Linked DNA regions of Homo sapiens: all the other regions are linked to region 1. The links come from fine-mapping of genetic effects on gene expression. A gene starts in region 1. Each other region holds a variant in brackets. All regions are shown on one strand. Distances are between the middles of the regions.

Region 1 (2,854 bases):
ATTTTTAGTAGAGACGGAGTTTCACCATGTTGGCCAGGCTTGTCTTAAACTCCTGGCCTCAAGTGGTCTGCTCGGCTCTGCCTCTCAAAAAGTGTTGGGATTACAGGTGTGAGCCATCACACTTGGCCCAAAAATCTTATTTTCTTTAAAAGCCATTAAAATTATGATTTCCAGAAGCTATATGTTATTTCCTCATTTGAATGTTACATAATTTATTTAATTCTTCTGTGTTATTTAAAAAATGTCAATACTCTATATTTCTTTAGGAACAAAGTCCCTAGAACTGGAATTATTGGGCCAAAGGTTATGAATACTTTTAAGTTATCGTGTGTGTGTGTGTGTGTGTGTTATCTTCAACTAATTTTTAAAAATGTGAACTTCTACCAGCTCGATGTCTATTTAATAAAAGTAATTGATGTGTTCTGAGCTTGCTGCTCACAACTCCATGACCTCTGAGTTAGTTTGCTTTCTATTCCTTTAAGTTCTTCAATCTTTATTGCTACTGAGCAGGCCACCTCCTTCCTTACTTTTAAATTATTATTATTCTTGTTCCTCAGTCTAACCACTTTCCACGCACATTCTGGTCTTTTTTGTTTTGTTTTGTTCATTTGGTCTTATGAATTAATGACTAAGCCAACGGAACCAAATGCAGGAAATACTAAAAACTTACCGGTAAAAGTATTAACACAAATGTGCATTACTACTAAGTATTTCATTTAGCTTGAAAAAAAAAAAAAAGGAATCTGCAGTGTGGTCTGTTTGTTTTTAGCTTATACTGTCTTTTCTTCATCAATATTCATTTATTCCTGTACGTGTGGTTTTAGAACTATCTGGAAATATAGGAACATTGGGAAAAATTGAACTCCACATAAACCTAATGTAGAAACATTAGTTTTACAGAATACTAAAGAAAAGCATTTCTGCTTATATTCATTTTCGTATTTTATTGGATTTTTTAAAAAATCACTTGCACTTAAGGCAAAAACTTCGCACATAGACATCCGGCAGAGAACCCCTCTTTCATTTAAATACAAACCCTAACACATTTTGGCATCATCAGATAAATTTGATTTAAAGCCTGACAAAATTCTAAAAGCAAGGAAACTGAAAAAAGCTGGAAGTCAGAATAAAGATAAATGAAGACACTCATTACAAGACTTAGGAAGTTGCAGCTGGTTTAGCTTTCCTGCGCGCCCAGGAGACGGAGAAGGAAAACTACGACTCCCAGAGTGCTTAGAGAGAACACGCGCGTCGTGGCCTCAAAACTTGCTCCCTTAGTCCCGCCTCCTCACTTCAGTGATTGGATTTTCCACTTCCGCGCCTCTGGAATTCTCTTCACCCATTGGTGGAGACTCCTGCGGGGTCAAATACAGAATTTACGCACCCTTGGCTTCCTTGGAGCCTAGCGGCTCTCCCCGCGTCCAAGATGGCGGCAGAAGCAGCTGGTGGGAAATACAGAAGCACAGTCAGCAAAAGCAAAGACCCCTCGGGGCTGCTCATCTCTGTGATCAGGTGAGGGAGGCAGGAGGCAGGGTCTGGGGACTGGGGGCAGCGGCTCGACCTCCGCTTTGGAAGGGAGAAGGGTTAGCTGGGTCCCACCCTGCTCTCCCCTTTCCTCCTTGCCTCCCGCAGCCCCTCCCCAGGGCTCTAACCCCTCCCCAGGGCCCCAGCAATTCCCCCTCCACCTTTTTTTTCTGGGGTTAGCTATAGAGAGAGGAGCCCCGCCTCAGTCTTTTCTTTAGGGGCAGCACCTTCTATTACAGTCTCGGGACCCCAAAGCACGCTATTTGGGTTTGGTAGAGAAAACCAGGTGTAAAGGTGTGTTTATTGATTCCTAAAATGCTTGTTTATTGTTTGCCTGTAGCAGCACTCACTGAGAAAGGCGTCTTGTTTCCTGGACTTTGGGGTGTAAGGCCTTGGAGTCCGGAGATTCCTGTCACGAGTTGCAGATTTGTGTTTTCACACTCTGGATACTTTCAACCACCTGTGCGTGGCCACAGCCACAAATACAAGAATCTGCAGTGAGCTGGTAGGAGGACTGGGTTTGAAGGCACACATCGGTTTTCAATTTTTTGCCCTGCCTCCGCATTCTGGTCCATTCCTTAAAAAACAGAACCAAACCAATTTCAAATTATCCTCCATGCACTGCCCCTCTGCACCTCCCAGAAGATTAGGGTGGGGGTGGAGTGGGAGCGGTGGATCTTTTAGGAGCTTTTTTTTAAAAAAGCGAAATATATTGAGGATGGGGGAACCCTTTCAAGAATCTTGGATATGATGCAGGTACTGACTAAAACCAATCTAAATAAAATTTATTATGGCACGTTTTTTACGTTGTTGGCATTTGAATTTCAACTCGTTTATTTTTCATAAACAAACACTCTATTTTTCCCCACCTATACTAAACTTTTGTTTGAGTTCTTGCAAGTTTTCTGGAATGTATTGATCATCTTTTCAAAACCCAGGGCCCAACATTATCTGGTAGGTACTAAGCACTTCAATGAATGCATGTATCAAACCATTAGAACAGCTTACCACTCACTGACAAAGACACATCTTATGGGTCTTATTTAGGAGGCTTTAAGATTATGGCCTATTAAATCATTACTTTAATTTTCTTTTGGGCTTAAGAGAAAAACATCTCTGTGTGGAAATGCTTAATATACTTGGTAGGCCATACAGAGGAAGTGCTGTTGTATTGTGAATCTATAGGCCCACATTCTCGCTGTGACAATACGCAGGTAGTGTAGATGTATCTCATGATACTAAAATTCCAATAAGAATGTTTGTTGTTTCCCATCTGAATTTCCTGTGGAATTAGAATACCAGGACATTATTTGGATCCTTTTTTGAACTT
Region 2 (2,807 bases), 810 kb after region 1:
TGAAGCACCACCATTCTGAGTGCTTTATACGTATTAATTAATTCAACTATTTCAATAACCCCAAGAGGTAGGTACTATTATTAACCCACTTTATGGAGCAGAAAACCATGTACAGTATTTTACAAAACCTCCAATGAATAATGAATGAATGAGGGATTGAATGAGACAAAACCTGTTAACAATGCCTTCTCTCCTTCTTCAGGCTATACCCCTACTTTTCTTTCCTTTCTCCCAAGGTAAATGCAAAATTAGCAAAAAAATGTAGAATGAGCTGAGCCACAGAAAGGTATGCGGCCTCCCTGGGTCCTCACTTAGACTTCTCCTGAAGAGAGCTCCCATGAGCTCCAAAGGACAGAGCTTATGGTTGTCCTGTTCTTTATTCTGTTGGTGGGGCCTAGAACACTGCCTGCTGATCAATCGTTATGAAGTAAGTAGAGGAATCAATGTATAGACAGCGTATTTGTCCCCTCGAGACGACGTTACCAGTGGGGAGCCAGTGAGCAGTGTTCTCTCTTGCTTTCTCAGGCAGTACTACGAGATGCTTTACAACACAGCTGACGAGCTCCTGAACCTGGTGGTGGACCAGGGTGTGAAGTACACGGAGCTGGAGTACATCCACGCTCTGACCCTGCTGCACCGCAGCCAGACTGGGGTGGGGGAACTGACCACCCAGAACACGAGGCTGCAGAGGCTCAAAGAGATCATCTGCGAGCAGGCTGCCATCAAGCAAGCCACCAAGGACAAGAAGATAACTACCGTTTAGCAGGGCGTACTGCGGTTGGTGACGGGGGTCCCCTCAGTCACACTCACTTTTTTCCTTGGTATGTTATTGAGTATATTCTGAGCTTAGTTTTCTCTACAGTGATACTTTAGTGGAGAGGAGGTGTAAGGATTCTTTCTCTCTGGTTTTGGCTTTTCATATAAATGCTAAAGGAAGGCGACAGTACAGAGTGTTTTGGTTGAACAACTACTTTAATGCAGTCAAATCTAACGGGACTAGGGTGGGATAGGGAGGAAGGTGGTATCAAATTGTTGGACTCTGAAAAACAAGTGGATGGATTACTAATATTTGATTTATTACTCAATATATATATAATTCCAGCCTTGGAAAGTAGGAAAGTAGGCTGCTACCTAACTTTTAGTCCCTTCCAAAACCATTTAGTAGGGTTCTATTACATAAACAGTAGGGTTTTTCCTCTCCTGACCTTATCCGTTTACAGTTCAATGAAATAAGTGTATGTGCATTGCTGTCTGTCTCTATTGCCAAAATCAAATAAATGGCTTCTCAGCTGCTGTTTACAACAAACTTCCCTAACCAAAACAGAACCTCTAATTTAGGGCTAGGAATAGAAGTCTTTTGATCCCAGTCCCTGGGACAGTTTTGTATGCTGTATCTTGTACACAGGTTGTAGGTTGGTTTATTGCCATTTTGTTTTATTTCTGCT[G/A]TATAAAAACCAAGAGCCAGACAATTAGACAACTATGGAGGAATGAAAGGCAATTCAAACATCTGCTTGATTCCCGCCCCGCCACCCCTAATTTCTGAGAGAATAATGGTTAGAGAACATTGCATCTCACTTGAAACATCCTTTGGGGGTAAATGATTCTTAGGTGCTCACTTGGTCTGAGCTCAGCTGAATGCAGGGAAGATGGGACAGAGTGACATTTCTCCTCTGTGCGGCCTCCAGCTGAGCCTGTCTCTGAATTGTTCCCTCCCCCGCAATGTGGGCACTTACCATGTTCCTGGCACACTGGACCTCACCATGTCCCCCGGTCACCAGTCCTCTTGCTGCCCATGGTTCATAGGTCATAGAAGGCAGCAATGCACTGACTGGGCCACATCTTGAAAACTCGTGGAAAGGGAAAGGGGAGGAGATGGGACTTTGACCACACACAGTGATGCCTCACACCCTGAAGGTGGGGGATTTTGTACCTGTTTGTACAACTTTGGTCTTGATGGGAAAAATGGAGAATTAAAAAGTGTTTTGAGAAGCTTAAATGTTTCATGTTATTTTTCTTGTGTTCTTTATTCAGCAAATATTCCCCAGAAGCCTAATATGTGCTCCATGCTACCACACACAAGGGCAAATGGATAGATGAAGAGGACACCCTTATTATCTAAGAGTGTGGGAACTGGACTGGAGCCAAAAATCCCAACAGCTCAAACTCAGGGCTGGGTCAGAATCAGGTCAGGCAGTGGGGCTGCCGGGAAGGGGATTCAGTGGGCAGCTGGAGGTTCCAGGGGATTCTGGTGGGAAAGAATGTAGTCAATCTGTCTGGCTCCAAGGGCCTGACTGGGAAGAAGTTGAATCTCTGTAGGAGACAACTGTGGAAAAACATACTGCCCTAAACGATATCATGAGAAATAGTCTACCCTAGAAGCAGGAGTGGAAGAAGGGGGGATGAGAGGAGATTAGGGTTGCCTAAGCTGCTGCTTCATGGCCGTGACCCCCAGCATTGATTCTGTACCTTTCCTTTTTCTTCCTGTCCACTCCAGGCGGAGAACCCGGAGTGGTGACAGTGATGGCAGCAGAGCCAGGGTGAGACTGAGAGTGCTCAGACTAATTTTCTTGGAAGTAGTGGAAAGCTCCGCTAAAAAAGAAACATGGGTTTGGATTGAGCAGAATGTCAAGAGCCCTGAGAACCAACCAAAAAATGGCAGATGAGCTGTTTCAGGGGCAACATTTAGGAAAGTGAAATCTCTGCTTTGCTTACAATGACGGGACTGAAAATGGCAATTCTGCACAGGAAAGGGACTGTGGGACTCTTCCAAGACATTTAGGACATCCAAGTTTCTTTGAAGGTTGGCA
Region 3 (2,500 bases), 810 kb after region 1:
ATTCAGCTCAATTTTTCTCCCTCTCAAATTTGTATTTCAGAAGTCAGATTCAGCACAGAATTCACTTGTTGACATTAATACTAGAGCTTTATCTTGGGAAGGACTACAAGAGAAAGTCTTTACAATGAAAATAATTATCTCCCTTCCCCAAAAAAGTACTGAATCAGAGGGACAGTCAACTTTTGGAAAGAAAGGTTACTTCATCCATTACCAACTTGAAGGGGCAAAAAGGGAAGAAATAAAAAGAGGTGACAAAATGAAAAAGCCAAAAACTCTTGCTTGTAAACTCCCAAATTAAGTGTTAAATTTACAACATGACTGCATTACTTGGTTTAGAGCACTGAATTCCCAGATCAAATCCAGTGTTGTTCAGATATAACTGCAAAGTTTGTACAAACGAATTTGAATCACCACAATACTGGCTCATTGCATTACAAAGAAAGAGCTGAGTATGGGAATTTTATTTAATTCATATTTGTGTACTCAAGACTCAAATGAGTCAGCGATAAAAATATTCTTTTCAGTTAGTTCTTTTGCTTTTTATAGTTTCAAATATTTTTGTATTAAGGTGGTTTTAGAGTAAATACAGGGCTCAAAAGTCTTTCATTTTGAGGCCTTAGACAAATCACTAATACTCTGTAGATCTCAATTTTCTCATATGTATAACGTAGATAATTGTAGTTCCTATTTAAAAGGATTGAAATGCACCTAAAAGCTAGACATTATTATTAATATTCTACAATCAAGACAGATTTCAAAACCCAGCATGAGACGTAGCTGTATATTTTAAAACACAGTTTCCATTCCGGGATCTAGGACTCTGAATTCTACCAAGTAAAGGAAGGCAAAAGGCAAAGCTTTCCTCAGAGACCTTGGACAGTTCCCCAGTCAGGGCCTTGCTGTCACCCCTACAGGCAAAGTTTATGGAACGCCTACAAGTACAGGAACAAGAGTTGCCATGGGCGGGAATAGTTTATGTTAGTGAGTATTTCTTCCCTCAATTTGCAAAGAAGGGAACTGAAACTGTTTCTAATCACTTTCAGAGATGCAGTACTAATTTTTGCACTGAGTATGCCAACTTGGGAGGTAGAACCAGGGATGAGAAAACTCCCTGGCCTCTTGTCTATGAAAATTTATGAAAAGCTCTTAAAGAGAAGT[C/G]AGAAAAGCACTAATACTCAAAGATAAAAAGATATCAACAATTCATTTATACATACACGCATACCTACATACATTAAAAACAAATAAGTAGATGAAAAATTGTTCCACCTCATGCAAATCAAAAGAATGTGAGTTAGATGCTGCCCATATGTTGTTGATAGGAGGATAAATTGATAGAGCTTTTTTAGAAAGCAACTTGGCAGCATTGTCAAGTGTCCTAAATAATATACTTATCTTTTAACTAATTCTGTTTTTAGAAATCTATCCATGAGAAAGTAAGTCTTTATAATTGGAAACAATTGAAGTATCCAATTGTGTTTCAACCTAAATATTTCAACTATAAGAAAGAAATTGGCTAGAACACTACATGTGGTGGGGGCGAACTACAAGAAAATATGCCAAACTGTGGTTTATCTTTATGATGAAATTATGAGAAATCTTTCTGTATGGCCCATATATTCTATATGGCATATGTATTAACTTTCCAATCAGAGGAAGATAAAATTTTGTTTTAAAACTTTAAAAAGATCTGCCCACCTTTCCAAAATACCCTGTATTTCCTTCCTGGTAGAAATGTTTTCAGACAGAATGTATGGGGGAGAAAGAGTCGCAGTGCAATACCATTAAAATAAAGCACAAAAGAAAAAGCCACAGAGAACAGTCTGTTGATAAAGCAAACATGAGGAAGATAAGAGAAAATGATCTGTTTGCACCAGAACAAAGCATAAACATTGTTATGTTCTAGACTCTGCACATGAGACCAGTCTGTGAAGTCACACCTCCTCTTCTCTGTCACTCTACTCCCTCACCTATCTGCTTATAATACTTTGGGAACTGCTGCAAAAAGGCACACAGCAAAGGGTAGGAGAAGCCACAGCAAGGTGCACATCTCCTTCCAGAATGTTCCATCCAGCAGGGTGACTTGAAACTCTTTGGTCTCCAGAATAAGATATTTGGTGTACATCTAGCAATTGACTGCTGAATATTGTAGGCTATGAAGAGTCTGTGAAGGGCTACAAACCATGAGCCAGAAAATGTCTCAATCAAATGTGCATTCACTGATCCCATCCAGGCAGCCCCAGCAAAGTGTCATCAAATGGAAAATGTGTTGCCCTGGAAGCCACGGCTGCTATTTTAATGCTCGATGATGAAGACCAAGCTTTCAATTTCCTGGGGCCTCAATAAGTGCTGATAAATTATTTATCCCTATTGGGTGACATGATTTCATTTCAGTCTGACAGTGTTTATCATGGAAGCTCATTCTAATGGTATAGTTTGGGGCATTTTTCTATTTTCTCTTTAGGACACCTGGTAGCACCCTTTCCCCACCTCCAGGTGAAAC

Evidence for each region.
Region 2: its variant is fine-mapped to the expression of EXOC4 in tibial artery (GTEx, PIP 0.97).
Region 3: its variant is fine-mapped to the expression of EXOC4 in testis (GTEx, PIP 0.96).

What each region holds. Positions count from the first base shown.
Region 1 is chr7:133,251,676-133,254,529 of GRCh38, forward strand. EXOC4 (exocyst complex component 4) reads left to right here and starts at 1,403. Exons shown (of 18, transcript NM_021807.4): 1 at 1,403-1,512. The coding sequence starts at 1,427. RefSeq lists enhancers at 1,170-1,219, 1,430-1,489.
Region 2 is chr7:134,063,766-134,066,572 of GRCh38, forward strand. It overlaps EXOC4 (exocyst complex component 4), which reads left to right. Exons shown (of 18, transcript NM_021807.4): 18 at 526-1,996. The coding sequence ends at 763. Among named protein-coding and RNA genes, the nearest start is that of LRGUK, 62 kb to the right of the region's middle. The variant G/A (reference allele first, on the strand shown) is at 1,446.
Region 3 is chr7:134,058,231-134,060,730 of GRCh38, forward strand. The region is part of intron 17 of EXOC4 (exocyst complex component 4); the gene reads left to right. Among named protein-coding and RNA genes, the nearest start is that of LRGUK, 68 kb to the right of the region's middle. The variant C/G (reference allele first, on the strand shown) is at 1,159.